Homo sapiens: one gene and its partners. The protein of the gene in region 4 purifies or fractionates together with the protein of the main gene of each other region. This does not show direct contact. Each region holds a gene or a part of one and is shown on either strand. Other genes may lie near its edges.

What was found.
Region 1: the proteins of POLD1 (region 4) and UPF3B purify together in Homo sapiens (affinity purification with mass spectrometry, with the first as the bait; one large-scale study listed by BioGRID). This does not show direct contact.
Region 2: the proteins of POLD1 (region 4) and MMS19 purify together in Homo sapiens (affinity purification with western blotting; 3 studies listed by BioGRID and IntAct, with this or other methods). This does not show direct contact.
Region 3: the proteins of POLD1 (region 4) and TBC1D2 fractionate together in Homo sapiens (co-fractionation; one large-scale study listed by BioGRID). This does not show direct contact.
Region 5: the proteins of POLD1 (region 4) and NOP14 purify together in Homo sapiens (affinity purification with mass spectrometry, with the first as the bait; one large-scale study listed by BioGRID). This does not show direct contact.
Region 6: the proteins of POLD1 (region 4) and UPF1 purify together in Homo sapiens (affinity purification with western blotting; one study listed by BioGRID). This does not show direct contact.
Region 7: the proteins of POLD1 (region 4) and ATF2 purify together in Homo sapiens (co-immunoprecipitation; one large-scale study listed by IntAct). This does not show direct contact.

The regions. Positions count from the first base shown.
Region 1 is NC_000023.11:119,835,638-119,840,008, forward strand, and holds part of UPF3B (regulator of nonsense transcripts 3B), read right to left. Parts: intron 2,891-4,371; coding exon 2,730-2,890; intron 2,415-2,729; coding exon 2,120-2,414; intron 1-2,119. UniProt on the Homo sapiens protein: Involved in nonsense-mediated decay (NMD) of mRNAs containing premature stop codons by associating with the nuclear exon junction complex (EJC) and serving as link between the EJC core and NMD machinery.
Region 2 is NC_000010.11:97,488,114-97,492,484, reverse strand, and holds part of MMS19 (MMS19 nucleotide excision repair protein homolog), read left to right. Parts: intron 1-4,371. UniProt on the Homo sapiens protein: Key component of the cytosolic iron-sulfur protein assembly (CIA) complex, a multiprotein complex that mediates the incorporation of iron-sulfur cluster into apoproteins specifically involved in DNA metabolism and genomic integrity.
Region 3 is NC_000009.12:98,200,414-98,203,853, forward strand, and holds part of TBC1D2 (TBC1 domain family member 2A), read right to left. Parts: intron 3,015-3,440; coding exon of another isoform or gene 2,996-3,014; coding exon 2,875-2,995; intron 1,252-2,874; coding exon 1,066-1,251; intron 1-1,065. UniProt on the Homo sapiens protein: Acts as a GTPase-activating protein for RAB7A. Signal effector acting as a linker between RAC1 and RAB7A, leading to RAB7A inactivation and subsequent inhibition of cadherin degradation and reduced cell-cell adhesion.
Region 4 is NC_000019.10:50,404,575-50,408,945, reverse strand, and holds part of POLD1 (DNA polymerase delta catalytic subunit), read right to left. Parts: intron 2,765-4,371; coding exon 2,624-2,764; intron 2,540-2,623; coding exon 2,429-2,539; intron 1,964-2,428; coding exon 1,772-1,963; intron 1,620-1,771; coding exon 1,531-1,619; intron 240-1,530; coding exon of another isoform or gene 162-239; coding exon 45-161; intron 1-44. UniProt on the Homo sapiens protein: As the catalytic component of the trimeric (Pol-delta3 complex) and tetrameric DNA polymerase delta complexes (Pol-delta4 complex), plays a crucial role in high fidelity genome replication, including in lagging strand synthesis, and repair.
Region 5 is NC_000004.12:2,942,338-2,946,708, forward strand, and holds part of NOP14 (nucleolar protein 14), read right to left. Parts: intron 4,211-4,371; coding exon 4,075-4,210; intron 2,893-4,074; coding exon 2,791-2,892; intron 1,890-2,790; coding exon 1,736-1,889; intron 15-1,735; coding exon 1-14. UniProt on the Homo sapiens protein: Involved in nucleolar processing of pre-18S ribosomal RNA. Has a role in the nuclear export of 40S pre-ribosomal subunit to the cytoplasm.
Region 6 is NC_000019.10:18,855,670-18,860,040, reverse strand, and holds part of UPF1 (regulator of nonsense transcripts 1), read right to left. Parts: intron 4,117-4,371; coding exon 3,952-4,116; intron 3,856-3,951; coding exon 3,741-3,855; intron 3,165-3,740; coding exon 3,021-3,164; intron 2,722-3,020; coding exon 2,508-2,721; intron 1-2,507. UniProt on the Homo sapiens protein: RNA-dependent helicase required for nonsense-mediated decay (NMD) of aberrant mRNAs containing premature stop codons and modulates the expression level of normal mRNAs.
Region 7 is NC_000002.12:175,077,260-175,081,630, forward strand, and holds part of ATF2 (cyclic AMP-dependent transcription factor ATF-2), read right to left. Parts: intron 3,507-4,371; coding exon 3,401-3,506; intron 1-3,400. UniProt on the Homo sapiens protein: Transcriptional activator which regulates the transcription of various genes, including those involved in anti-apoptosis, cell growth, and DNA damage response.

The DNA of each region.
Region 1 (4,371 bases), on a different chromosome or scaffold from region 4:
AAATTGGTTTCTGCAACAAATGGTAGGAAAACAAGAGAAGGGGAAATTGTTTAGATTAAAAGAAAACTTGGCTGGGTGCAGTGGCTCATACCTTTATTCCCAATACTTTGAGGGGATCGGCTGAGCTCAAAAGTTTGAGACCAGCCTGAGCAACATAGGGAGACCTCATCTCTACAAAAAAACTTAAAAATTAGCTGGGCATGGTGATGCATGCCTGTAGTCCCAGCTACTCTGGAGGCTGAGGTAGGGGGATGGCTTAAGCCCAGGAGGTCGAGGCTACAGTGAGCTGAGATTGTACCACGGCACTCCAGCCTGGGTGACATAGCAAGACTCTGTCTCAAAAAATAAACTAAAAACAAAAGAGAACTGAAGAAGACATTTCAAGGAAGCATAATTTGTGGAATTTGTTTAGGTCCTATTAAAAAAAAGACATTAGGCTGGGCACGGTGGCTCATGCCTGTAATCCCAGCACTTTGGGAGGCTGAGGCGGGAGGATCACCTGAGGTCAGGAGTTCGAGACCAGCCTGGCCAACATGGTGAAACCCTGTCTCTACTAAAAATACAAAAATTAGCCGGGCATGGTGGCTTGAGGCTGTAGTCTCAGCTATTCGGGAGGCTGAGGCAGGAGAATCACTTGAACCCGGGAGGTGGAGGTTGTGGTGAGCTGAGATCATGCCACTGCACTCCAGCCTAGATGACAGAGCGAGACTCCATCGCAAAAAATAAATAATTAATTAATTTTAAAAAGACATTAATGAAGCAATTGGGAACATATGAACACTGAATAGACAGGACGTTAAGGAATTATTGTTAGTTTTTTTTGGTGTGAAAATGCTACTAGGGTAATATTAATAGAGTATTTATCTCATATACTGAAGTATTTAAGGAAGAAATTATGTGCAGGGTTTGTTTGAAAATAATCTAGTAGGGGTAGGGATGAAGTAGAATAGAAAGAAGGTTGGCTATGAACTGCTGGGTGATGGGTACAGTACATGGAGTTCATCATACTATTCGATTTTTTTTTTTTTTTTGAGACAGAGTCTCGCTCTGTTGCCCGTGCTGGAGTGCAGTGACGCGATCTCGGCTCACTGCAAGCTCCGCCTCCCAGGTTCACGCCATTTTCCTGCCTCAGCCTCCCGAGTAGCTGGGACTACAGGCGCCCGCCACCACGCCTGGCTAATTTTTTGTATTTTTAGTAGAGATGGGGTTTCACCATGTTAGCCAGGATGGTCTTGATCTCCTGACCTCGTGATCCACCCGTCTTGGCCTCCCAAAGTGCTGGGATTACAGGCGTGAGCCACCGCGCCCGGCCAGTTTTTTTTTTGAGACTGAGTCTCGCTCTGTTGCCCAGGCTAGAATACAATGGCGTGATCTCGGCTCACCTCAACCTCCACCTCCCAGGTTCAAGTGATTCTTCTGCCTCAGCCTCCCGAGTAGCTGAGATTACAGGTGTGCGCCACCACATCCAGCCGATTTTTTGTATTTTTAGTAGAGACGGGGTTTCACCATGTTGGCCAGGCTGGTCTAGAACTCCTAGGCTCTAGCAATCCACCCACCTCAGCCTCCCAAAGTGCTAGGATTACAGGTGTGAGCCACTGCACCTGGCCCATCATACTATTCTCTATTCTACTTTTGTGTATGTTTACAATTTCTATAGTAAGTTAATAAAAGCCCAGCCAAGACTGAAATAAAAGTTGGTCAGGCGTGGTGGCTCACGCCTGTAATCCCAGCACTTTGGGAGGCTGAGGCAGGTGGATCACGAGGTCAGGAGATCAAGACCATCCTGGCTAACACGGTGAAACCCTGTCTCTACTAAAAATACAAAAAAATAAGTCAGGCGTGGTGGTGGGCGCCTGTAGTCCCAGCTACTTGGGAGGCTGAAGCAGAAGAATGGCGTGAACCCAGGAGGCGGAGCTTGCAGTGAGCCGAGATTGTGCCACTGCACTCCAGCCTGGGCAACATAGTCAGACTCTGTCTCAAAAAAAAAAAAAAAAAAAAGTTGCAGATGATTAAAGTTCCCCTTTAAAAATTCTATAATAACAGTGCCCTTTACACTTTCTTTACACTTGCAGGAAAAGGGAAAAAAACCCTCATAAACAAGTTTAATGACAAGCAGCACCTTGTTTCTTATTCGATCTCTCTTGACCACTTCTTCTTTCTTTTCAGTTTTTTCTGAGCTGCCTATTGATTCTGTACTTTCAGCCTTCTTTCCTTTATCCCGAAGTGTGTCTTTCTCTTTTTTCATTTCTTCTTCTTTTCTCTTAAAAGTCTTCTCTTTCTCATAGCGCTCCTTCTGCCTACGGCGCTCTTCTTCTTGCCGCTTCAGCCTCTCTCTTTCTCGAAGTATGCGCTCCTGATCTCGTTCATATTCCCGTTCCCTCTCCCTATAGTCTCTGCCGCTCTCATCTTCAGGTCTGCATGAAAAACAAATCTGAGACAGAACCCTGAAAGATCTTGTAATCACAAATGCAGGAACACTGTGATTCTGATTTGGCCCCTGCAATGAGGTTGCACTTTTAGAGCAGAGTGAAAAATACTAGTGTTTTAAGAAGGAACAAAACCCCAAAACCATTCACCCAGATTAAGATACAAGAATATTCTGAAACTGTTCCTCCTCATCCCCCTGCCCTGCATAAAACAGCTTATCTTAATTCAGGTACATGTCCAGGACATAGCAGCAAAACTAGCATGTATAAATCAAACATAACAAAGAGTCCTTGACTACTGACCTCTTTGGTTTTTCATCTTTAAGTTCGCTATCAGAACGCTTGGGCAATGTACAACTTTGCCCACTGGCTCTTTCATCACTGAGATTCTCTTTGTCCAATTTCTTGGCTTTTTCTCTTTTGTCCAATTCTTTTTCATCTCCTTTTTCTGGCTTCTTGAGCAGCTTTAAAGATAAAATGTTTATTTTTATTTTGAAGGCTGGGACACTATCTTCTATTAAAAACCCAGTATACCAAATATTTAAAATTTAGACTAGACAAAGCCCCCTATCTCTGCAGGTACACTTAATCTTTCAGGTGAACAACTAGTGCATAAGAGTAGTAATTTACTAAAAGGATGCTATTAATGTTAAAGTGTTATCCACTTGAACGAAGTGGTTTAATCACTTTGTGGCAATAGGATCAAGACTCCTTTGGCTTTTATTCTGAGGCAGGGTCTCACTACTCTGTTGCCCATGCTGGAGTGCAGTGGCATGAACATGGCTCACCGCAACCTTGACCTCCTGGGCTTAAGTGGTCCTCCTGCCTCAGCCTCTTGAGTAGCTAGGACAACAGATGCACACCACCACATATGGCTAATTTTTTAATTTTTTTGTAGAGACAAGGTCTCATCATGTCACCCAGGCTGTTCTCAAACTTCTGGGCTCACACCATCCTTCTGCCTCGGCCTCCCACAGTGCTGAGATTACAGGTGTGAGCCACTGTGCCCGGCTTCCTTTGGCTTTAAATGGGTCAACCTTTAAGTGAACCAATGCATACTTCAAAGTATGCTTCTGTAGCAAACCAGCATGTTGATATAACTTAATGGGAAACAGCCCACAAATTTTAAGTGATAGGCAGATCGTTTCTGTTGGGACTGTTTTTATGTAGTACTTGGAATGACAAATACCTTGGTCACCAAAGGAGAGATCCATTGCAGGAATAATTTTGCCTTGAGCCTGAGAATAACATACTTATGATGGTACAATTATCTTGCCATTAGAGATTAATAACAAGAATTATTTGGCATTTGATTTAAAAATCTAAAGGCCTTATACAACCAAATAGTGAAGTTCCATCTCTACTGAGTAGGAACTCTGTATTTAATGCCATATTTACGCATGTTCAAAAATGCCATTGTTTTTTACATTGCTGCTATGAATCTCTCGAGAATACCTCCAAGTGTCGGATAATCAGAGAGATTCTTAGGCAAAATAGAAGAATTTCAAGTCTCAGAGTGAAGGTATCACACAAGGTTCATCTCAGGGTGAAGGCATCATGTAAATTACTAAGCAAAAGGCAAAGCACCACAAGACATAAGCACAAAGCATTTTGGCACACAGACAGCCACTGCAAATGGTGAGTCCAAAATGGACACTGAGAAGGCACCAGTGTAAAATGAGGATACCATGTGCAGGTTTCATTGGAAGTGCTCTTATTTCTCCAATGAACATCCTTATTAGAAACCAAGGTGTTCATTACTCTAATAAGAACATTAATGAATGTCTCTAGCATGGCTGGCTCTACCTTCTGCCTTGCTGATTGTTAGGAATAGCAAGTCAAGTCACTTGTGGCATAGCAGACAGAGAGATTGCTGGAAAGAATTAAGATGAGAAACTCCATCCTCCCCCAAGCCCCTCATCATCAGTAATGAGCCCCGTAGAGA
Region 2 (4,371 bases), on a different chromosome or scaffold from region 4:
TTTTTTTTTTGAGACAGAGTCTCACTCAGTCGCCCAGGTGGGAGTGCAGTGGCTCCGTCTCCACTCACTGCAAGCTCTGCCTCCTGGGATCACACCATTCTCCTACCTCAGCCTCCCAAGTAGCTGGGACTACAGGCGCCCGCCACCACGCCCAGCTAATATTTTTGTATTTTTTTTTAGTAGAGACAGGGTTTCACTGTGTTAACCAGGATGGTCTCAATCTCCTGACCTCGTGATCCGCCCGCCTCGGCCTCCCAAAGTGCTGGGATTACAGGCGTGAACCACCGCGCCCGGCCTCATTTTTCTCTAATTTTTTCTACTTTTATACTTTTTTTTTTTTTTTTTTTTAGATTGAGTTTCACTCTGTAGCCCAGGCTGGAGTGCAATGGCATGATCTCAGCTCATTGCAAACTCTGCCTCCCAGGTTCAGGTGATTCTCCTGCCTCAGCCTTCGGAGTAGCTAGGATTACAGGCATGCGCTACCACACCCGGCTAGTTTTTGTGTTAGTAGAGACAGGTTTTTGCCACGTTGGCCAGACTGGTCTCAAACTCCTGACCTGAGGTGATCCACCCACCTCGGCCTCCCAGAGTACTAGGATTACTGGCATGAGCCACCGTGCCCGGCCTTATAGTCACTTTTATGTTTGTGCTGCATTAATTCAAGAATTTTGTGAAAGCTATATGAAGACTAAAGGGCTTTGCCAGGAGAGTTCACCCACATACTGGGATTCAAGGAACCACATGCAAATGGCTATTTATTTGTAATTATAAAGCAGCCATTTTCATATTAATGTATGCAGAATGCCAAAGAAGCATTTTTCTTTTTTTTTCTTTGAGACGGAGTCTCGCTCTATCGCCCAGGCGTGATTTCGGCTCACTGCAACCTCTGCCTCCCAGGTTCAAGCAATTCTTCTGCCTCAGTCTCCTGAGTAGCTGGGACTACAGGCGCATGCCACTACACCCAGCTAATTTTTTAATTTTTGGTAGAGATGGGGTTTCACCATATTGGCCAGACTGGTCTCGATCTCCTGACCTCATGATCCACCCACCTCGTCCTCCCAGAGTGCTGGGATTATAGGCGTGAGCCACCACGCCCGGCCTTTACCTCAATTTTTTTAAAAAAATGAAAAAATAGAAGGTACTGAATGGGCCCTATTTGGCACTTCTTGTCTTAGAGCCTTCGTTCCAAATATAGACCCTAGCCTGACATCCACAGAGGGTTTTGATGGTATTGCTGAAGAAAAATGATTCAGTTCATTGATATCCTTTGCTATTAACAGTTGTTAGTCCCCTATGGCTTCATCTGTACAATTATTAACTCCTTCTGTGCCCATTATTGAAATTAGTTTTTAGATGGGTTGTTTCAGCAGAGTTTTCTGTACTATAGCCAGGCTGTTCCAAGAAAGTACCCTTTTCTACCTTCCCAAATGTTGCAATGCCCTTTTGTGGTTCGTAACCCAGAAATAGGTGTTTCAGTTCATGTAAGTGTTGCCATTAAGGAATTGGGTATAGAACCCAACTTGGTTTGTTTGGCCTGTTAGTCTGGCTGCTACCCCTTCCCCCACCCTTACAGTCTGCTCATTTTTTCCCTTGGCTCTTTCTCAGGAGCTGGGGCAGCAGCTGGGCCTTCCACATCCTGGCACAAGTGGGCTAAGAGTGCCTGATGTCTAAATTGGTGCCAGTCACGAGCTATAAGTCCTAACTAGAGCTCTCATTTTCCTCAGTCTCATTGGACGACTTCTTACTGTGGTGCTAGAGTGAGCCTCTGCCCAGGTCAGCTCATAACTGTTGCTGTGAGACCACAGACTTTAGGAGAACTGGAAGTTTAGGATTTCTTCAGACCTCTCTTTCACTTTTTCCAGCATTGGCACAAGCTGACTAGTTAAGGTTCTGCATTTAGAGGTAGGTGGATTAGGAACCCAGAACAGGCTGCTGGAAGTAATTCTCTGGTTGTCACACCTTATTTAGCTATAAGTGTTCAATGTGAACCAAAGCCTTATGAAGATTGTTAGCCTTTTACCCTGTTTCTCCCTTGAAAATACATTCTAAGATGCTTCTCTTCAATATATGTGAGTTACTATTGTGCTGCTAAAATTGCATTTAAAGGCCAGGTGCAGTGGCTCACATCTGTAGTCCCAGCACTTTGAGAGGTCAAGGTGGGTGGATCACTTGAGCCCAGGAATTTGAGACCAGCCTGGGCAACATGGCAAAACCCTGTCCCTACAAAAAAATACAAAAATTAGGCGGGCATGGTGGTGCATGCCTGTAGTCCCAGCTACTCGGGAGGCTGAGGTGAGAGGATCACTTGAGCCTGGGAAGTCGAGGCTGCAGTGAGCCATGATTGTACTACTGCACAGAGCTAGACCCTGCCTCAAAAAAAAAATCCAAATAATATAGGTAGATACTCCTCCCTCCAGGAGGTGGAGTTTAATCTTCCCCTCCCCACTGAATGTGAGCTGGACTTAATGAATACCTTACAAATAAAAGAGTACCAGAAAGAGAAAAGTAGTAACTATAGTGCAGAGACCTGGCAGACATACCTTAACCAAGTGATAAACATTAACATTGCCAGTGATGGAGAAGCCATGTTACTATCTTATATCCCTGATATGATATGTTGAGAAGGGTACTTCACCTCTGTGATATTCTTTTTTAAAACCCATAACCCCAGTCTAAACATGAGGGAAACATCAAACAAATGCAAATTGGGGAACCTTCTATAAAGTACTTCTTTAAAACTATCAAGGTCATGAAAAACAAGGAAAGACTAAGAAACTTTCACAGACCAGGAGAGACTAAGAATTCAAGATGACTAACTGCAATTTGGTATTCTTAATTGGATCCTGGAACAGAAATTTGGCATTAGTGGAGAAACTATTGAAATCTGAATAAAGCCTAGAGTTTAGTTAATAGTGTGTATCAGTGCTAACCTAATCTCTTAGTTTTGACACTCGTACATAGTTTCACAGATGTGTGCCATGTAAGACGTTAACATTAAGAGAAACCGAGTGATGGCTATACGGGAACTCCGCACTGTCATTGCAACTTTGCTATAAATGTAAAATTATTCCAAAATGAAATATTTCTTTTAAAACAATAGTCTACCTCTCAACCCTTAACTATGCATTTTCCCTCCCTGAAGGCAACAAATGTTATTAGTTCCTTTTATATCTTCCAGAGATGTAAATAAATGCAAATAAAAACAATCCCCCCTCCCTTTAAAAACAATGCTACGCACATATTATATACACTGTTTATACACACTGTTATTTTAGATCTTGACTCATTATCAGTATATATGTAGCTTCAGTCTTTCTTCATTTGTCTTTTTAAAAGTAGCTACAGGCCCGGTGTGTTGGCTCATGTCTGTAATCTCAGCACTTTGGGAGGCCAAGGCAGGCGGATCACTTGAGCTCAGGAGTTCGAGACCAGCCATAGGCAACATGGCAAAAGCCCCATCTCTACTAAAAATACAATCCAGCCTGGGCAACAGAGCAGGATGCTGTCTCAAAAAATAAAAATAAAAAAGATTAAAAAATAAATAAAAGTAGCTACAGAGAATTCCATTGTATGGATGTACTATAATTCATTTAACTGGTTTCTTATTGATGGGCATGTGTTGTTTGCAGTCATTTACTGTTACGAATAATGCTGTATTGAATAACGTTATACATGCATTATTTTGCACTTTCACAGTACAGTTAGCCCTCCATATCTGTGTGTTCTGCATCCTTGATTCAAGCAACTGCAGGTCAAAAGTATTTGGGGGAAAAAATAGCAACTGTACCAAACATGTATAGACTTTTTTCCTGTCATTATTCACTAAACAATACAATGTAACAACTATTTGCGTAGCACTTAGATTGTATTAAGTATTATGAGTAATCTAGAGATGATTTAAAGTATACAGGAGAGTGTCCATAGTTTGTATGCAAATACTCTTACCATTTTATATAAGGGTCTTGAGCATCCACAGATTTTAGTATCCTCAGGAGGTCCTGGAGCCAGTCTCTCATGTATATACCAAAAGATGACTAGATAGCTAGAGGATAAACTTCTAGCTTTCCTGGGTTAAAGCCTATATGTACCTGGAATTCTAAAGATGTTATATTGCCCTCAATATAGGGTTGCACCAGTTTATAATCCTACCTACAATGTTTAAGAATGTCTGTTTCTGAATATCATGACCAAACATAATATATTGCTAAGTTTTTTGTCTTTGCCAGTCTGTTAGATTTTCTTAAAAAGTTTCTGTGTAGTTTAATTTACATCTTTTATTGTAAATATGGTTGAGCACCTTTTCGTACATACTTGTAGTTCCTTTTATGTGGAATGCCTGTTCATTTTTTTGTTTTTGCCCATTTTGTTTTT
Region 3 (3,440 bases), on a different chromosome or scaffold from region 4:
CCAGGCAGGTCATCCCCGGAGGGAGGGAACCTGACAGACTTGGGCAGTATGGAAGACCCTGGACTGGCTGCGGAAGTTGAGGCCTGGAGGCACAATGTGTGGGGATAGGCTCCAGGGGGCTGGGGGAGACTGAATACCCCGGCGGGGTGGTGGGGGGGCGGGGGAAGGGACGCACAGCTTGAAATCTGGGGATTTGGACAGAGTCCTGGCTCTAGCCTGTCTTGTCCCATGACTGTGGGTGAGGCACGGCCCCTGTTGAATCTCATGGAGTTAATCTGTATCTTTACGTGGGGCTTTGGCAAGAACCAGATGAAATGACAGGCCAGACACAGTGGCTCATGCCAGTAATTCCAGCACTTTGGAAGGCTGACACGGGTGGATCATCTGAGGTCAGGAGTTCGAGACCAGCCTGGCCAACATGATGAAACCCCATCTCTACTAAAAATACAAAAATTAGCCAGGTATGGTGTTGCATGCCTGTAATCCCAGCTACTCCGGAGGTTGAGGCAGGAGAACTGCTTGAACCTGGGAGGCAGAGGTTGCAGTGAGCGGAGATCGTGCCACTGCACTACAGCCTTGGTGACAGAGCAAGGCTCCATCTCAAAAAAAAAAAAAAAGAAAGAAAGAAATGAGAAATCTGTGGGTGCTTTGTAAACTGAGGTGTAAACTAGGGCTGAGTTGGGGGACCTGCCCAAGGTCTCTGGGCAAGGTCAGTACAGAGCTGGGTCCAGACCTGAGCTCCGATCTCTTAATCCAAGGTTTAGTCCAAACAGGAGGAAGAAAAGGAGGGCCCAGGTGACTAGGGGGCAAGGACAGCATAGGGATGTGCCTCTCTGATCATGCTCACACCTCCTCTCCACGGAAAGGAAATCCCCCAACTTCAGAGGCAGAACCACTACTTCTCATACATGCAAAGCATTTTGCAGTTGACAATGCTCTCAGGAGACGTTCAACAGCTCTGACAAGTAAGCATTGTCTTCCCATTCTCCAGGGGCAGAGTCAAGACGCAGATGGGTGAAGGGACTTGCTCAGGGGCCCCCTGCCCATCCCCTGGCTGCACCCTACCTTCGTCCCCTCGTACAGGAAGGCATCCCAGACCCGAAGGAGGATGTTGCTAATGAGACTGTCCGCAAAGACCACGAGGAACCAGTTGAAGGTGACGAGGGAGAGATCCACGTGGTGCTGCCCCAGATGGGCCATCAGCCTGGGCAGCTTCTCCGAGAGCAGGTCCTGGAGCACCCGCTGGTCCACCTGGAAGCCAGCGAGAGGGCCTGTCATCTGCAGCCCCAGCGTAGGGCTGCCTCCCTCCCTGCCCAGCCTTCCTACCCAGTCAGTCCACACACAATCCTGAAGCTGCTCTGGGCAGGTCCTTTCCTGCCCAGGAGACACCTCGGGGAGCCAGGGGCCAGTCTAGCTGGGAGTCAGGTACAGCATCATATCACTCCGCTGCTCCTAATATAGGCCAGAGTCCTCTGGACTGGGGCACTGGGCTCTGCAGTGGAGCCATGTGGGCTGGCACGTTCTCCGCCCGCTCACCCATCTGAATCCCTTGAGCCAAGCAGGAGGTCAGGGGCCAGCTGATCCTGCTGGCAGTTCAGAGACACTGGTCTCATGCCCAGGGGCCTTGGCGAAATGGAAGCTTTGTCTCTAGGCTTATATCAGCTGACAACCACAGCCCCTTCTCTATACCCAATTTGTGCCTGACACCTAAGATGCTAGGCGGATGTCTGGTCCAGGGACAGGTGTGTGTGGGAACGCATAATGTCCTGCCTCGCCGGACATCAAGGAATCTTCTCAAAACAGGGTGCTCCTGGCGACACTGGCCAGTGACCTCTTCTTGTGACCACTGTCATGCCTCCGTCCTTGTTTCACTGGATGGGTTAACCACTCTCAGCACTGGCTCCAAGACATGGTTCTTTCGTGGTTCTCCTCCTCCCTCTGTGATGACTCCATTTCAGTTTCCCCTTGCTTTTCCTGGAACTGCTCAGTCCTCTCCTCTCACTTATGTCCTCTTCCAGGCATTAGCGTCAGCTGTGGCAAACAGCCAGTAGCTCCCCTCCTCCCTCACCCAGAACCTTGGGTCATCTACCGAGGCCAAGTGTCCAGTTCAAAACCTAAGGTAACTCCCCAAGTCTAAGATGCCATTGACCTACTGAAGGATTTATGGATGAACTGATACAATGCCAGAAATTTACTTCAAGACAAAGCAGGAGGAGCGGATGGGAGTTCAGAAGAAATAACACTGGCTCCCTGGGTTGATAACTGAAGCCAGGTAATGGACACATGGAGGTTCATTATACTATTCCCTCTATCGTTTTGAATGTGGGAAATTTTCCATAATAAAATATGGAAAAAAGGGTCATATAACACACATCAATTTCAGAGATGTTAAGATGTAAAAATTAAATATGTACATTTCCTAACTTGCCTTGCAACTAGGGCAGCCATGAAATAGTTCTGACCAGTAAACTGCAAGTAGAAATTGCTGGGTCAGGGAGCCAGCTCCTGGTGTTCACCTTCTGCTTCTCCTGGCCTAGGCCATGCCCACAGTGCTGGAGGCGATGCAGCCATTTTGTGACCAGGAGGTGATGGGTGTGAGGATGAAGGCCACCTGCCAGAGATGGCAGAGCAGGGAGCTAGGAGCCTGAACCCTGCGGTACTGCCTTGTCATTCACTATCTGAGAATAATAATCCCCGATTGAAGCTGTTGTTAGGTTGGGCTTCTCTTCCATGCAGCCAAATGCACTCCCACAGTGCAGAGGGAGAAATGGAAGCCCGAGAGATTCCCAACTTTCCTGAGAGTCACAGGCTTCTAGGAACAGCTCTGGGGCACTGCCCTACATGGCTGCAAAGTCCCCTCCTGGCCCCACTTACCTGGGATGCCGTCAGCGTGTTGCAGTAGTAATCAGCGGGCATGATGGTCTCCACAATGGCCACCAGGCACCAGAAGGCGCTCTCCTCCTCCTCTAGGACCAGCAGGGCAATGGCCGCCAGCCTGGAGTAGTAGGGAAGGCCTGGAGTGATTACAGAAGCCGTGGCCCTGCCAGGCAGCACATGGCAGAGGTGGCTTCCTGGGTTCCAGGGGGAAAGTCCTTCCATGTGAGCATCAGTGCAATCCCACTCCCTAACCAGATTTGTGCTCCTGGCACCTGGGGTGAGATAAACGCTCTTTTGGGGAGGATGACCGGCGATTTCCAGAGCAATGGGGGTCACTTCAGAGCAGGGGCTCTGAAATCAGGCTGCTTGGGTAAATCCTGATCTTGTGGCTTCCTGGGTGACCTTGGGCAAGTTACTGAACCCCTGTAAGCCTCAGTCTCATAATAATCACAGGACTATTTTGAGGATGAACAGAGCTCATTCAGTGCCCCACACAGTGCCTGCCACACAGTGAGCTCTTTATAAATGTTAGCTATCCTCACCTTAGTATTCACAGGCTTTGA
Region 4 (4,371 bases):
CCCAGATGGGCCTCGGGGGACACATGCTGAATTGGGCACTATACCCCAGTTTCTGTGCAGTCCCGGGCCGAAGGAGCGTGGTGTAACACAGGTTGTGGGCCATCATGATGGACGGGTACAGCGAGGAGAAGTCCAGGGTGGCGATGGGGACGTCGTAGTACCTGGGAGGGGAGCAGCCGCGGCCGGGAGTCAGGGCTAGGAGTTCCCATGCCGCCCCCGCCCTGTCTTGTGGCCTCACCCTTTAAAAAAAAAAAATCATTCATTGGCTGGGAGCAGTGCTCGCTCCTGCAATCCCAGCACATTGGGAGGCTGAGGCAGGAGGATCGCTTGAACTCAGGAGTTTCAGATCAGCCTGGGCAACATGGCAAAACCCTATCTCTACAAAAAAATTTTAAAAATTAGCCAGGTGTGGTGGTGCACGCCTGTGGTCCCAGCTACTCAGGGGCCTGAGGCAGGAGGATTGCTTGAGCCTAGGAGGTGGAGTAAGCCAAGATCATGCCACCGCACTCCACCCTGGGTGACAGAGTGAGACCCTGTGTCAAAAAAAGAAAAAGAAAAAGAAAAATAATATATATAATTAATCTACTATTTTATTTTATTTTATTTTTTTTGAGACGGAGTCTCGCTTTGTCACCCAGGCTGGAGTGCAGTGGCGCAATCTCAGCTCACTGCAACCTCCACCTCCCGGGTTCAAGCGATTCTTCTGCCTCAGCCTCCCGAGTAGCTGGCACTGCAGGCGCCCGCCACCATGCCCAGCTAATTTCTGTATTTTTAGTAGAGACGGGGTTTCACCGTGTTAGCCAGGATGGTCCCAATCTCCTGAACTTGTGATCCGCCTGCCTTGACCTCCCAAAGTGCTGGGATTGATTACAGGGGTGAGCCACCGTGCCTGGCCTATTAATTTATTTTAGGGCCGGGGTGTTGCTCTGTCGCCCAGGCTGGAGGGCAGTGGCGCAATCATCGCTCACTGCAGCCTCCACCTCCTGGGCTCATCATCCTCCCAGCTCAGCCTCCCAAGTAGCTGGGATTACAGGCATGCACCACCACGCCTGGCTAATTTTTAAAAATTTTTTCGGCCGGGCACGGTGGCTCACGCCTATAATCCCAGCACTTTGGGAGGCCGAGGCAGGTGGATCACGAGGTCAGATCGAGACCATCCTGGCTAACACGGTGAAACCCCGTCCCTACTAAAAATGCAAAAAAAAAAAAAAAAAAAAAAATTAGCCAGGCGTGGTGGTGGGCGCCTGTAGTCCCAGCTGCTGTGGAGACTGAGGTAGGAGAATGGCGTGAACCCGGGAGGCAAAGCTTGCAGTGAGCTGAGATTGCGCCACTGCACTCCAGCCTGGGTGACAGAGCGAGACTCTGTCTCAAAAAAATAAAAATAAAAATAAATAAAAATAAAAAAATTTTGTGGAGCAGGGGCCTCGCTATGTTGCCCTGGCTGGTCTCAAACTCCTGAGCTCAAGTGATCCTCCCACCTCAGCCTCCCAGAGATTACAGGTAAAAACTGCACCCAGCCTGGGGCCTCACCCTTTGAGGGGCTCGATGACAGTGGCTCCCGTGTAGTCCTCGCCGCCCTCTGACTTCACCACGGGCATCAGCAGCCCCTCGTGCATGGCCTGGGAGGGGAGAAGGTGGGAAATGGAGTGGGTATAGGTGGGGCCGTGCGGATTGGGAGTGGGGAGAAAAAGTGCATCCAGGATGCCATTGCCTGGAGGGGGCCACAGACGTGCCTGGTGGGGGGTGGCGAGGACAAGTCTCGGCTACTGACCTGCCGCAACAGCTGGGATACGACCTTGACCTGCTGGCCACGACTGAGCAGGTAGCTGAGGGGCACGCCAGTGACCCTCGCCATCTCCACGGCGTTCACCAGCACCATGAGCCGCTCCAGCAGCCGCAGTGGCAGGTAGGCATCCTTCAGGCAGTACACAGCCAGGCGGCGGCGGGTCTGGTCGTTCCCATTCTGGGGATGGGCACGGATGGGGTCAGGGACCAGGGGTTGGGGGTGGGAGGTGGAGCAGGAGAAGGAAGTGGGGGTCAGGGTGAGGTAGCCTGGGGAGGGCCTGGGAGGTGAGGCGGGCAGGAGGGCCCTCCAAGTCGTCAGGGTCTGGGTGGGGATGGAGGTAGGGTTGGGGGCCAGGGAGTCCACAGGGCCAGAGGGAGGAGGAGGGAGCAGCCTGAAGGCCACCGTGGACCTGTGGTCAGGCCAGGAAAGCAGAGACAAGGTCATAGTGACAGAGGTCACAGGAGTGGAGAGAAATCTGGGGTCAGAGGTCAGGAAAAAGTGGGCGTCAGGTAAGGTCACAGGTCATAACAGCAGGTCAAAGAGTGAGGTCAGACGTGGGGGCGTGAAGTTGAGGTCAGAGGCCGGGGAAGGGTGAGGTGGAGGTCAGAGGTTGGGGTGAGAGGTCAGGGAGGCAGCAGGCACCTGCAGGTCGGTGATGATGCTGTGCTGCACGTCCTCCTTCTGCTCGCCCAGGAAGTGGAAGCTCACGGCATTGAGCGTGTAGGAGCGGAGCTTGTACTCCCGCAGCAGCACCTAGGTGGGTGGGTGGGCTGGTGGGCTGCGGGCCTGGGCAGTGGCCTTCCAAGGACAGGGACACACCCCACCTCCCGCCCATACCTGCAGCATGTCCATCTGCACGCGGCCCACCATGCTGACAACCTTGGTGTCCCGCCGGCCCGTCTGCTTGGACTGGAATGAAGAGTCCCGGATGTTGGAGCAAAGGCCGGCCACACGGCCCAGGAAAGGGAATGTTTGTACCTGAGGAGGAGAGGCAGGGTGTGCAGCAGGCTGCGGGTCCCCGTCACATAAGCCTGAAGAACGGAGATTGAGACCAACCACAACATCCTTATAACAACCCTAGGGGGTCGAGAGCAACCCTGGGGGCAGAAAGACGGTCTGGGGCTGGGTGTGGGTGGCTGGAGACTGGGGAGGGAGTCCGGAGTAAGGACTAAGCTGCAGCCAAGGCTGGGATAGCGAGAGTCAGGGGCCCTGATGGACTGGGGGCCAAGGATGGAGCCCAGTGTCTGCGGGCTGTACCTAGGCAGGAAACAGGAAGAGATTTGGGGACACTGTGAGCAGGCGGCCAGGTGGGGGCAGAGGCAGGAGGCGGCGTGGAGCTGGGCTGAGATGGATGCTGAGGGCGCTGGAGGGCGCCTGGCTGCAGGAGGCCTTGCAGGGTGCTGGGGCCCAGCCTGGGGGAGACTGAGGCCAGAAGAAGCCTGAGCTGGGGACAGGGCAGAGGGTGAGGGACACCCAGGGAAGGGGAGGAGGAGTACCATGGCCCGGGCATCAGCGCCACGCTGTGGAATATACACTGGGGGTCCTAAGAGTTTGTTCTGTATTTTAGAATGGATTTTTTCTTGTTTTCTCTTTAATAGAGGCAGGGTCTTGCTATGTTGCCCTGGCTGGTCTTGAACTCCTGGGCTCCATCGATCCTCTCGCCTCATCCTCCCAAAGTGCTGGGATTAGAGGCGTGAGCCACCACACCCAGCCTGTTTTGTTTTTCCATTACCAAGCTGGCCAGACATAGAGAAAAGCAGGAAAATAAGGCAATATATCTCATTAAGGGCTGAACCATGTTCTCCCAAAAGATGTTGAAGCCCTAACCCCCGGCACCTCAGAATGTAACCTCATTTGGAAATATGTCTTCGCAGGGGGTCAAGTGAAGATGAGGTCACTGGGGTGGGCCCTCACCTCACGACGGTGTCACTACACAAAGAGGACATGTGGGCTAGGTGCACTGGCTCACACCTGTAATCCCAGCACTTTGAGAGGCTGAGGTGGGCAGATCACCTGAGGTGAGGATGGAGACCAGCCTGGCCAACATGATGAAACCTAGTCTCTGCTAAAAAAAACAAAAACAAAAACAAAAATAGGCCAGGCGCGGTGGCTCACGCCTGTAATCCCAGCACTTTGGGAGGCCGAAGTGGGCAGATCACCTGAGATTGGGAGTTCGAGACCAGCCTGGCCAACATGGAGAAACCCTGTCTACTAAAAATACAAAATTAGTCGGGCATGGAAGCGGGTGCCTATAATCCCAGCTACTTGGGAGGCTGAGGCAGGAGAATCACTTCTACACCCCAGCGCCCCCTGGGAGGCGGAGGTTGTGGTGAGCCAAGATCGTGCCATTGCACTCCAGCCTGGGCAACAAGAGCGAAATTCCATCTCAAGAAACAATAACAAAAAAGCAAAAATTTGCGGGGCGTGGTGGCTCACGCCTGTAATCCCAGCTACTTGGGAGGCTGAGGCAGGAGAATCGCTTGAACCTGGGAGGTGGAGGTTGCAGTGAGCCTCGATCGTGCCATCGCACTCCAGCCTGGGCGACACAGCGAGACTCTGTCTCAAAAAAAAAAAAAAAAAAAAAA
Region 5 (4,371 bases), on a different chromosome or scaffold from region 4:
CACCAGAGTGGAACCTGAATTCCAAGTGCGACAGGACAGAGATGGCCTGAACATTACTGGGCTCCCAGCAGGCTCTGCGGCACCGAGCCTGTGGAAGTTCACCCTCTAACAGACGCACACCGATTTTTATGTTTCTGGGTTGTGCCAGACACTGAGGGTTTCAGCGTGGGCAGGGACACCTCAGGGGAGGGGAAAAGCTTTGGCAGGGGGCGCGGTGAGAGCCAAGTGCCTGATCCTGCCTGAGAGGCCTGCTGGCCACAGACTTCCTGGGGCCTACTAGGCACACATGGGGCTGATGAGGCGCTCAGGCCACATCCGGGAACAGACTGAAGTCCCTGCCCCTGTCGGGGAGACAGGCAGTGCACAGCACCCAGAGGAGCAAATGGACCAGACAGAACACGAGAAAGGAAAGTGGAGGGGCAGGAGGGAGACAGGAGAGTCAGTCGGGGGTGACGGTGGAGGGCGGGAGAGGCCTGAGGGGCAGACGTCAGCAAAGGCCTGTAGGACGCAGGAGTCAATTCACTCGCCACGGAGAAGGGCAATCCAGGCCGAGGGTGTGGCTACACGGGGAGGGGTGGAGAGTGGGTACAGTGGGGCAGAGGTGCCGGGCCAAGCGAGAGGGGAAGGCGTGGGTCAGGCCCCGCCCCACACTTCCCCAAAGCCGAGATGCCCACCCCTTCCTTGACTCCACCTGTGCCCAGCCTGTTCCGTCACAGCCCTTCACACGTGGGACTGCAGCTATCTACAGGTGGCTCTCCCGGAGGCAGGGAGCATGTGGGCGGCCGCGCCCCTCTGGCGCCCAGCACCGAGCCTGACAGACAGGAGCCTTGGGAGGCAGGTGGTGGCAGAATGGGAGCACTGAACCGGAAGAGTGGGCCAGACCCCTCTTGGAAGGGACTCTGCTGGTGGTGTGAATGATGCCACAGCACCTGCTCCTCAGGTCAGTCCCCTGGACATGCAGGCGCTTAGCACTGCACGGTGAGCTGGAAATAGAGGACAGGGGTCTGAGCCTTGAGGTCCAACCTCTGGTCAGGCTGGGAGAGGCGTCCACAGACATGGAAGAGCTCAGGAAGAGGCTGTGCAGCTCCTCACCCCCCAGAGGGAAGCAGCAAGTGCTGAGGAAGCATCCAGGAGCAGGGCTGGCATCAGGGGAAGGGGGAGGAGCACAGGGGCTGGGGTGAGGGCCCAGGAGGGCAGCCAGTGTGCAGACTGCTCCTCATCCCAACACTGCTCTTGCCGCCCTCGCTCCTGAATTCAGAGCGTTAAGAGAAGCGACACAGCAGCGCGGCCTGTGTGAGCTGCACGAGAACTTTCACACTGCCTTGTCGTCACGTGAGAAAAAGTAAAAAGTTAAGATTGATTTTAACAATAGACCTTATCTAACCCCAAATACCAAAATATTATGATTTTAACACATAATACAAAAAATTAAGATATTTTAAGTATTTCTGACACTAAGTCTTCGCCACTTGGGCATATGTCACAGGTAGGGTACGTCTCAGTTCAGACTCTGGCCCCTGGCAACCACGCTGGACAGCACAGGTCACCGGTAGCACTGCTTTTCCCCATGTGGCGCGTGCACACGCTCACACAGAGGGACAGACAGTGCGGCGGGTGGCAGGTTGTGTGTTTCCTCTACTTTCGCATATTCTAAACTTTCTACAATGAGTATGAACTACTTAAAAAAATTCTAAAGTATAACATATTTGTAGGAACCTCCCTCAAATCAACTCACCTTGGCTTGCTTTGTTTGGAGTTGCTATGTAAAGAATCCCAAGAAGAAAATTAATAAGCTCAGGTATAAACCTCTGGGACAAAGCCACATACTCCAGGAACAGGCAGCACACGAACAGGCCCTTCACCACGTCCTGGAGGGACAGGATGGGGCACTGGAAAGGAACATATGGGGGGTTACTGTCCTGGGACGATGTCATGCCATGCTAGGCCGACCACCGGGCTTCCCTGATGAACCACGCACCCCACTGAGCTTCACAAGTACAGAGGGAACCCCCGCACCTTATAGCAGTGTCGAGAGCATCAAATGAGATGAAAACAAGATAAAGAGCTTTAGTGATTTTTTTTTCCCGAGACGGAGTTTCACTCTTACCACCCAGGCTGGAGTGCAATGGCACAATCTCGGCTCACTGCAACCTCCACCTCCCGGGTTCAAGTGATTTTCCTGCCTCAGTCTCCCGAGTAGCTGGGATTACAGGCATGTGGCACCACACCCAGCTAATTTTTGTATTTTTAGTAGAGACGGGGTTTCGCCATGTTGGCCACACTGGTCTTGAACTCCCGACCTCAGGTGATCCGCCCGCCTCAGCCTCCGAAAGTGCTGGGATTACAGGCGTGAGCCACCGCGCCTGGCCAGAGCTATACTGATTATAAAGTTCCTTCCACCCATACAGAGCGTACGATTACTGCACTAAGCATGTACCAATCACATGCCTAATAAAGAAAAAGGAACAGCTTGAACTTTTTAAGCCAAAAAGGGAACAAAAGCCCTTATCATCACACTGGATAACTTCACCACTAACTTGAAAGGTTGTTTTCTGGGGTAGCACCATCTGTAACCTTGAGGTGCCAAACCAGGCCCTCCCACTCCCACCCACATCTGGGGCTGCTCGAGCCGGGGCTCTTTTAGATGGGCCCTCTTTGGCCTAACCGCAGTGCTCGGTCTCTGCAGCCCTTAAACAGCCACACTCATGTTCCACAAGGCCCCGAGGGGCTGTGGCTCCGGCCACCCGTGGTGCAGCAGGCCGACCCCTGCCGCATGTGGAGAGAACGCACCTTGGTGAGCAGCTGACTGAGGCACACGAGGGCAGGGGTCACCACTGGGTGCCAGAAGTCGGAAGTTGGAAATAGCAGCCCAGTGATTTTCAAATAAATGAGCTGGAAAGAAAGTGTTACCACAGGTTAAAGAAGGTAAATGAAGTCCATCCATATGCCCTCCCCGCAAACACTCCGGAGCCAAGAACAGGATCTGGCGAGGAGAGGGTGCATCTCCTTGGCCCAGAGCTCTGGCCTCAGTGTCACAGAACAGGCGTCCAACCACCGTGGGTCAACCAGCTAAACGTGCAGTGAGGACACTGAGGCCCATGAAGACTTCAAAGCAGTCAACAATGGTTATAGACACGGGCTCAGATCATGTTTTGGGGAGTTGATTAAAAATCACTAACCTAAGTCCTACATTTTTAAGCTTCTGCTAACTATTGTGAATCCATTTCAACACAAACACCAGGCAACAGAATAAAGAGCGTATCTCAGCAAGTATTTCCTTAAAGTTACTAAAGCTGAAAATACAGCATGAGGCTGTTATAAAATTGTTAAAAATCTCAGCGTACAAATGTCTCCCAACCTTTGAATAACATAGAAACCGAGACCAATTTAAACCAGCCCACAGGCTTGGGCCCTTAAGGACAATACCGTGGTTCTATTTGCCTTCCAATGTTTTTGTCACTGGACCAAATACAGCACCATTCACGTGGAATCAAACCAGAATCTCCCTGCACGACCCACACGTTAGTCCATGGCTAGTGGAGGAGTGCCCTCCCCTCCCAGGCTCGCTGCCGTGCACTCTCACTCCAGATCACCCTCACTGCCGTGCACTCTCACTCCAGATCACCCTCACTGCCGTGCACTCTCACTCCAGATCACCCTCACTGCCGTGCACTCTCACTCCAGATCACCCTCACTGCCGTGCACTCTCACTCCAGATCACCCTCACTGCCGTGCACTCTCACTCCAGATCACCCTCACTGCCGTGCACTCTCACTCCAGATCACCCTCGCTGCCGTGCACTCACTCCAGATCACCCTCACTGCCGTGCACTCTCCAGATCACCCTCACTGCCGTGCACTCTCCAGATCACCCTCACTGCCGTGCACTCTCACTCCAGATCACCCTCACTGCCGTGCACTCTCACTCCAGATCACCCTCGCTGCCGTGCAGCTCACTCCACATCACCCTGGAAGCACAGGGTACAGCCAAGAGCATCGTACCCGTCGTCCACCTTCTGTGATGCCAAACAGAACTTCTGTGGCAGGGGCAGTGCCTAGACTGAACTCTGCTTACCACATCCAACCCTGGCAATGCCGCCCGGCCTTTGGTCTCAATCATTTCTTCCATCTCATGCATCGCATCTCGGAGAACAAATTTGATAGCGTCACTTGCAGATTCAGGAAACATCTGGCAAAGATGATATAAGTGCCTGTTAAGCAGAAATGTAAAGTCAGGAGAGAATGACTTTAGATAAGAAACACAGAAAAGCCCTGCAAGCCACTTTCCTATGCAGTCACCTGTTGACTGAGCAAGTAAGAACTGGATGAATCCGCTTTTTCTAACAGCATTCTTAAGAGTCTACACTCACTT
Region 6 (4,371 bases), about 32 Mb from region 4:
CCTGGATCTCTGCCAACCCCAGGATACAGGATATTCTCCTGCTTCCTTCCAGAAGCTTGCCTTAAAGGCGCCACAGCCCCTACAACTGACTTGTGTGTGACACTGTTGAGCCAACAGTGTCCCCCTGCCCTGCAGCCTTGTCCATTCCTGCTGAGGGCCTGTTGACCGGTGGCTCTGCCTCTGGGCTCCCTCCTGGGCCGGGGCCCAACACTGCAGCTTGGGGGCCGGGGCGTCCTGCCATGTGAGCAGCCACTTTCTTCGGGCTCTTCATGCTCATCTTGGCTTTTCTGGGCCCTGTTGCGTTTCCTTAAAACTGTAAAACCAGTTTCTCAATTCACAGGTGCCCTCCTCACTCTACTGGGAGCTTCCATCAGTGGAGAAAACCGGTGTTTTTGCACAGCACCAGCCTGACATGGACAGAGGAAGCCAGACACGCCAGGACACATCATATGATCCCACGTCGAGCTGAAAATGAGGCCAAGTGGATCACTGCTGTTACAGCGAGCACAGGGGCCGCCGGATGAGCTCAGAAGTCCCTCAGCCCAGGGGCTGCTGTGGATGCGCACCCCTGGACAGTGGCCACCTGCAGGGATGAGGCGGCTTCTCACAGCTGGTCAGGTGGTTCTGGGTTCAGGTGCTGGCTATCCAAATATGCTCACTTAGTAACCACTCATTGAGCCAGACACTTGTAATGTGGCCACATGTTTACACTTCAATAGAGAATTTCCTAAAATGTACTTCCTGGGTGTGAACTACGTGCTGTGCATCAATTAGAGAGCAGTGTGCACCAGCGTCTGCCCTCTGGGCCGATGCCCTGGGGACCATGAGGGGTCTGAGCCTGCGCCGAGCCACGCCTTTCCCAGCCAGTGCTCAGACACCCCAGAGCACAAGCTAGGTCTCTGTGGCCTTGTGTTTTCAGCCTTGCCATGCGCTGGGAACAGCGGTGTCCCTGCGATGTCAATAGTGGCATCAACTCCCAAGACCTACCGCTAGGCAAAGAGTGGTGTGGCCCAACCCGGGGGGTGGGCTCTGAGCCTCACTTTCTCCTGTAACTAGGCCTGACAATACCAACCTCACAGGTTTGGAGTTCATGAGGCGCTGTGTCGGCAGCTTTCAGGACCCTTTACACTCTCAAAAGTTAGGGAGTCCAAACAGCTTTTGTTTATTGGATAACTGTATTCTCTAAACTTGGAAATTTAAAAAATATATTAATTCATTTAAAAATAACCCATTACGTGTTAGTTATTTCTCCAAAAATAAGCTAAGTAAGAAGAGTGGTCCTGTCTCCCATTTCTGCAAATCTCCTTACTATCTGGCTGAATCGGAGGCAGCTGGGCCCTGGGGTCCACCTCTGCTCAGTCCACCCTCCTGGGCTCTGGGGACGCTGTGGGGAAGCCAGGCCTCATGGATGCCTGAGGCTGGAAAGGGAGATGGGTTTGTTTTTACAGCCTTTCTGCATGGCTGGGAGTCTCCAGCCCTGAGGCCACATCAAGCTGGACAAAGGTGGGTTTCTGCAGGCCTGTGACAACTCTTTGCCACTCCATCCCCATGTGACTTCGTGACACTCTGCTGGTCATTCAGGAAGGATCTCCCACCGAGTCAAGTAGGTCTTCCAAAGGCTGACACATTTCACTGGCAATGGTGGAAACATTCCATCTGTCACCCCCACAGACCTCACCAGAAAAGTCTCTAGGTGTTGGGAAGACACCAAGCTCATGGCAAGCGACGTTAAGTTTTCCAAAATTCTGGTTTTCACTTGAATTTTACTACTGTAACAGATGTTGCCACTAGTTCTCCATGAAGCGACAGGTTCGATCATTTTTGGAAAAAGTCTGCCCAACACCTTGGGGTGAATACCCAGGGTGTGTCCACAAGGACTTCCTTCAAGCGCCGGCATACCCAAAGGTGTCACGAGAAATTTTATCTGGTCACAGTGAAACACTCGAGGCTTAGTAAGATGTACTGTTCACTTCCTCATCCAGGGCGTTTCTTACTGTGATCCGGGCACAGTCTGGCTGCTCTGGGCTGACTCTTGCAGAAGCACCAGGGGGTCACCAGCAGTGTGAGCGTCAGCAGAGTGAAAAAGGGCAGGTGAGGCCTCTGTGTTATCCAGGGAAGCCGGACACGGTCTTGCGGGCCCCAGGGGCCCAGGCCCTGAGAACAGCTGTTCTTCATGAAGCACTGAATGCACAGCCCACGTTAAGGCCCGGGCTCAGCTCCCCTAACAGCCTGTCCTGGCTGCTGTGCATGCTGCCACATGAGGCTTGGATGAATTCTCAGGCAATGACTGAGTTTTACAGAGGACACAGGCTCCCCACATGCCCCAGAGACACCACTTGATCCAAGACCATACCATCAAGACCTTGGGCACAAAGTGCCCTGACCTCAAGCAGTGGCTATGTGAAGCCGCTCAGGGGAAGCTGATGGGCCAGTTCCTTCTCCCCAGTCCACATTCCCTTGATGCCGCTTCTCTGTAGAAGCCCCTGCCCTGGGCAGAGCCCCGTTACCTGCAGTGACACCATTCTGGAGGGAGCCCTCGTAGAAGATGTTGGATGGGAAGGCGCTGAGTGCAGGGTGCATCCGGTACTGGACCTGCAGGCGGATGGGCCGGATGCCCAGCACCACCAGGCGCTCGAAGAGCGACTGTGACAGCCCGGCCTTGGCCGCCTTCTTGCACATCACCACTGGGCCCAGCTGGCAGTGGTCGCCTACAAGGATCAGCTGTAGGAACAGGGGCCCCCACAAGTCAAGAAGCTCAGGTGTGAATCAGCCTCAACACACACTAGCAAGGAAGTAGGGGCCCCAGGATGCACAGGACACCACCTGGCCACAGGGGCATTGCTCACCACGCACACTGGACGTGCAGCTGGCAGAACCCACCCTCTATAAACCCCTCAGGGAGCCCCCAGTGTGCGCACACTCTGCTGGGCATCCTACGTCAATACAAGGTGTTTTAAAAGACAAACACCAAGAATCACACACACGAGTTTTCACACAGGAGGGCAGGGGAGGCAGCCCACCTGCTTGGCCCCGAGGACCACGGGAACCATGCACTCCGGCTCGGTGGCCTGGGTGCTTTCGTCGATTAAAATGGAGCGGAACTGCATCTTGGCCAGCCTCGGGTCACCGGCGCCCACACATGTGCAGCAGATGACATCTGCGTTCTGGGGAAGGGTGCAGAGGCATCAGGGCACCTGCACTGTAAACGCCACCAGACCCCGGAGGGCAGGTGGGACAGAACACAGAAGCTCTCCTGTTTCTCACCCTCCCTGACACTATAAAAAACAAGCTGTCCCTCCCAGACAAGATACATGGTCCAGGCTGTGGTGATTACAAACTTTTAAGATCCTTAAACGGTCATGTTTCACAGAAGGCAACCTCTCCACACCAAGAGCTCTGCGCCTCACGACAGCCTCCAAGGGGCAGTGCTGAGCTGCTGGAACCTGCACTCAGGCTGATTCCAGTTCAGGCTGGTTGGTTATGAAAGAGCAGGAGTGTTCTAGATCCACTGCCGGATCCCAGTGGAGGCTGGCAGGGAGTGGAGACTCCCTAGAAGACCGTGTTCCAGGCAGCGAGATGTCCCTAATTTACTGTACAACTGAGCGCAGAGAGGCCAAGTAGAGAGCATCTAAGTTCTCTTTCCAGAAGCAAAGCAACAATTCAAATAGGTGCTTTGGCCCAAACAAAAACCATCAGGCCGCCAGCCCACAGGCCCTTTTGCAGGCAGGAGGGGCACTCACCATCAGCAGCTCTCTCTCTGCGGTGCGCTTCAAGGCCCGGTACCGCTTCTCGTCGGCAGACGACAGCTCCCCAGTCTCGTCTTTCAGCTGCTGCAGCTTCTGCAGCTCAGGCATGCTGGAAGCACATGCAGGTCAGCAGGGTGCCTGAGTTCTGTACATGTCACCCGCAGAAGCTCAGGGACCAACTGGGAGGGATGGACTCGACACACACCTGTCCATGTTCCTGATCTGGTTGTGCAGGGCCAGAAAAGACACCGGGGAGTCGATGGCCTCACGGCTCTTGGCGCAGAGGCGCACGACCTTTAGCCCCGTCTGGTGGATCTTCTCCGTTAGCTGGTCCACGGCGATGTTGCTCGGAGCACACACCAGCACCGGCCTGCAACACCATTGGGGCAGCTCAGTGCTTACCCAGAGGAAGCTCGGTGAACGTAGTAAGCCAAGACTCTGTTTTTTGAGACAGGGTCTTGCTCTGTTGCCCAGGCTGGAGTGCAGTGGTGTGATCTCAGCTAATTGCAGCCTCAACATCCTGGGCTCAAGCAATCCTCCCACCTCAGCCTCCTGAGTAGCTGGGACCACAGGTGCACGCCACTACCCCCAGCTAATTTCTGAATTTTTTTTTTGTAGAGACGTC
Region 7 (4,371 bases), on a different chromosome or scaffold from region 4:
ATTTGCATGTGCCTTTATAGCAGCATGATTTATAATCCTTTGGGTATATACCCAGTAATGGGATGGCTGGGTCAAATCGTATTTCTAGTTCAAGATCTCTGAGGAATCGCCACACTGACTTCCACAATGGTTGAACTAGTTTACAGTCCCACCAACAGTGTAAAAGTGTTCCTATTTCTCCACATCCTCTTCAGCACCTGTTGTTTCCTGACTTTTTAATGATCACCATTCTAACTTCACCACTATTCTTTAAAAGAACAACAGGCTGACGTTTCCCTGAATGTTGAGTTCAAGGGACACACCAGCTTTTAAAAATAAAGAGGCTGATCTGTGATGAGTGGTATAAGGAAACGTAAATACATACTGGAGTCAACAACTTAAAATGAAACAGTAAATTATAAGGGATGAATGCTTACCTACAGACTTTCAGAATTAGGTAAAGCAAATCTTTAAGCAGTACAAAGAATCAGGTACTCACAATTATGTAATTATAAACCTTACATACACATCAAATACCTTTACAATGTGATATATTTGCACCTATGTCCAGTTCTAGGTGAGGGGAGAAAATGACTGGTGTAATCACAAGCACTAGAGAGATACAGAAAACCATGCTGTACTCAAAGAGCCACTTCCAGCTCTACCTAAGCTAAAAGAAACCAGCTGTTTGGCAATTCAGTAATCTTGAAAGTTCTCTACCTATGTCCACAAGTTTCTTTTCCTTATTTGAGATAGGGTCTCCCTGTCGCCCAGGCTGGAGTGCTATGGCACGATCACAGCTCACTGCAGCCTTGAACTCTTGGGCTCAAGTGATCCTCTTGCCTCAGCCTCCCAAGTAGCTGGGACTATAGGTGTGTGCCAAAATGCCTGGCTTTTTTAAACTTTATTTTTTGTAGAGATGGGGTCCCGCTATTTCACCCAGACTGGTCTTGAACTCATGGGTTCAAACAATCTTCCCGCCTTGGCCTCCCAAAGTGTTGGGCTTACAAGGGATGAGCCACAGTGCCTGGCCTATACATATTTTCAGTAATAAAAGTATTTGTGGTTGATTAGTCCCCAAGAAGCTTTTCTTCCCATTTATAATTATAGAGACAATTATAATACAACTTTAATTATGCCCAGATCTAAAGAATGTGAATTCATGGCAATAAGATCACTTTTGTGCTTTATTTTTCATGGAACCCAAATATTTAAAATGTACTCTTAGTATTTTCATTCAGGTTTTATATTACTTAACTGTTGGGGTGACTAACTGTCATGGTTTTCCCACGACTGAGGGGTCTTCTTAGGAAGTAGGACTTTCAGTGCTAAAACTGGGCGGGACAGACCCTATGGCTGTGACTTAGTACTTCCACCTTTACTTGAAAGATTTTGTAACATTCCTTAATTTCTACTAAATCTTAGTTTTGATTCCCAAATGTTTTTAAAGATTTAGCTAGTATTACAACTCACCACTGTTAGCAAGAGCTGTGTGCTACAACATAATGAAGAGTGTAAATTTTTCAAAGGTATTCACTTAGTCAATTTCTGTATCTATTTTTACTACTACACAACAGAGAAGTCAGACTTATTTCAAAGATTTCAAACTTGAAAATATAAATTACCTGAAAATTTCTACAAAATCCAATTATCTCCCAAGATCTGAAGAGAATTAATTTTATGGTAGAACTATATTTCAGTTAATTTGATTATCTACATGACTAGACAGGAATAAAGATAGGATTATTTCCAAACAACAAACATATCCTATTCATTTCTTATATTCTCATAACTTAGTACTCTATGTACTAAAAATGTATTAATCTAGATTTTCAGTCATTTAAGTATACAGTATATAAACCTACGCATCTATACACTTAAGATATCTTGTAAATCAATTGTCAAATGAATAACTGGTTTGCATCTGCTGAGCATACATTGCCTGGATAATAGAGTCAAAACTGTTGGGATTATCTAATAAATTATCAAAGATTTAAAAATTACAGGTAATTCTGAATTGGATACAATTTAAGAGAACAGTTAATTTCCTTTTAATTTTATAAAACAATTTATTTCCTTTTAAACTATGAAAATCCAAGAGAGATTTCTTGTTAAGAAAATCACGTATGCATAAATGCTGAACTAGTAGCTTCTATAGGAAATTATGTTGTTAAGTCAGATGGGAACCATAATGGCCTCATCCCTGAAGCAATCATTGTTAATATAAATCCCAAACATATTTCTATATGGTTCCAATTTACTCCAATGTGTTTCACCATCCTGTCAAAATTACTAGATATCAAATAAGCAAGATTTATATGCTCAAAACTGACAAAAATCAGCGTTCTAAATATATATGGCAATTGAGAGTAGCTAAATCTACGGAATCTTTTAAATTAAAAAATATTGCCCATTCTGATGAAACTGCTTATAATGACTACAAGTAAAGATGGTGGCCATTAAGTTTTATCGTGAGCACCTGAGGAACTGTTTGCATCCAATACAAAATGTTTCTTTCTTTTGAATTACTGACACTGGCAAATTAAAATGAAGTGGATACATATGGTTGAAACAATCTTCACATTTACTAATATCCTGAAATATCACTAAATCATAAAGACTAAAACTGTGGGTTATATATTATAAATGTTGCCTAATGCATTCCCAACTCTGTTGTTTGTTACAAATTTGTATACTATGGACAAAATTGGCCATTTATTCAAGAGTAACAGCTGGTTCCAACACTGTGCATCTTATCAAAAAAGAAGGACATTACAAAAAGGAAAAGGCACAATTAACCTTTAAAATGCTGAAAACAAAAGAATCTCATTCTTTGGGAAAACATTTAGCAGGAAATTTACAAGCAGATAATTTAACTACTGTTCCCGTTTTAACATTTTTATAAACTAACTAGATATCTCAATATAAAGGTTTACAACAATAAAAACGTTACACAATGCTGACATTATCTAAGAAAGAACAATAGGATCTGATACCTTAAAGGGATATCATATATTGTTAAAGGCAGTCAGCTGATTTTAAAAAGAAAAATATCATCATTAATGAACGGAGGCTGGGAAAAAAGTAGTGTTTCACCCTGTCAATCTAAGACAAAGTGTTATCCTGAGAAGATGAACAAAATATCATCAAGTACTTACAGTATATTTTAAATTATTAGCTAATCCATTTTGTTGATCTATAGTAACGCTTAGGAAAAAAGCTAGAAACAGGAAAACTCAAACTCTCTAGATTCTAAAAAATTATACCTCTCTACTGCATTCTATAATAACCTTACAGAAATTCTGATATTTAATCTTGAATATTAGAAGCACAGTCTCCATTTTTAAAGTAGCAGCTCAGTTCACTCTGACGGTATTTCACTGACGTAGCCTAAGGCTATAGGTAATGGAACATTACTCACTATGATAGCCAGATTTCTTCTGCATGGCGGTTACAGGGCAATCTTTATGAGCCAGAAGAAGCTGTTTCAGCTGTGCCACTTCATTTCTCAGCAGGGTGACTTCACTCTGGAGAAGAAACAACTTATGTACCTTACCACAGACTAAACATATTTTTTACTATTTAAAACAAGCAAGGATTAAAGTATAAAATTGGACATCACTGGCAGAACATTAAAAACAAAGAAAATATGCTGATTAAATATGTCTAATCAGCACAGGGCAGCTTTTATATTTTAGCATTTATTAAAAAGCTGTAACTTGAATAAAAATTTAAGATAATGCCACAGCTGGATAGCATATTTCAAAATTGTTTCCATTTCCCTGGGACTTCTTATATATTATTGGTGACCTGTTGAAAGTATTTTTATTTTATATATGTTGCATGCTCTTCTGATTATTTAAAAAGAAACATCAAGGGAGTCAGGATGAATTTTCACTGATTCCATTCACCTAAAAATGAAAAAAATCATCCTAGAAATTCAAATAAGCAAGTTTCCAGTTTCCTAGAAACCAAGAAAAGCTCCACAGGGGAAACCAAAATAACCAAAGAATCATGGATACCTAAAATTCACTGCAAGGCACTCTTGCTGGACACTGAAACCAATGAAACTAGATATAACATTTAAATGGCTTAGCTGCCTTTGACCCAGGCAATTTGTACACATCTAAATTTAAATCTGCTAAGTCAATGGAGATTTGTCCTAATCTTCAGAATGAGTACTTCAGCCATTGTTTGGGATACATTAATCTGGTAAAAAGTTCCAAATTGAGCAAGTCCGACTAATTCCTTTGAGTCACCCCGAATATTAAAAACACGTAAGTCAGTGATCATTACCAATACTCAAGAGTTAGAAATAATATGAATTTAATAAACTGGTAATATAAAAAATTCTTAGCTTACAAATACTTCTACTTACTTGGACTCACACAG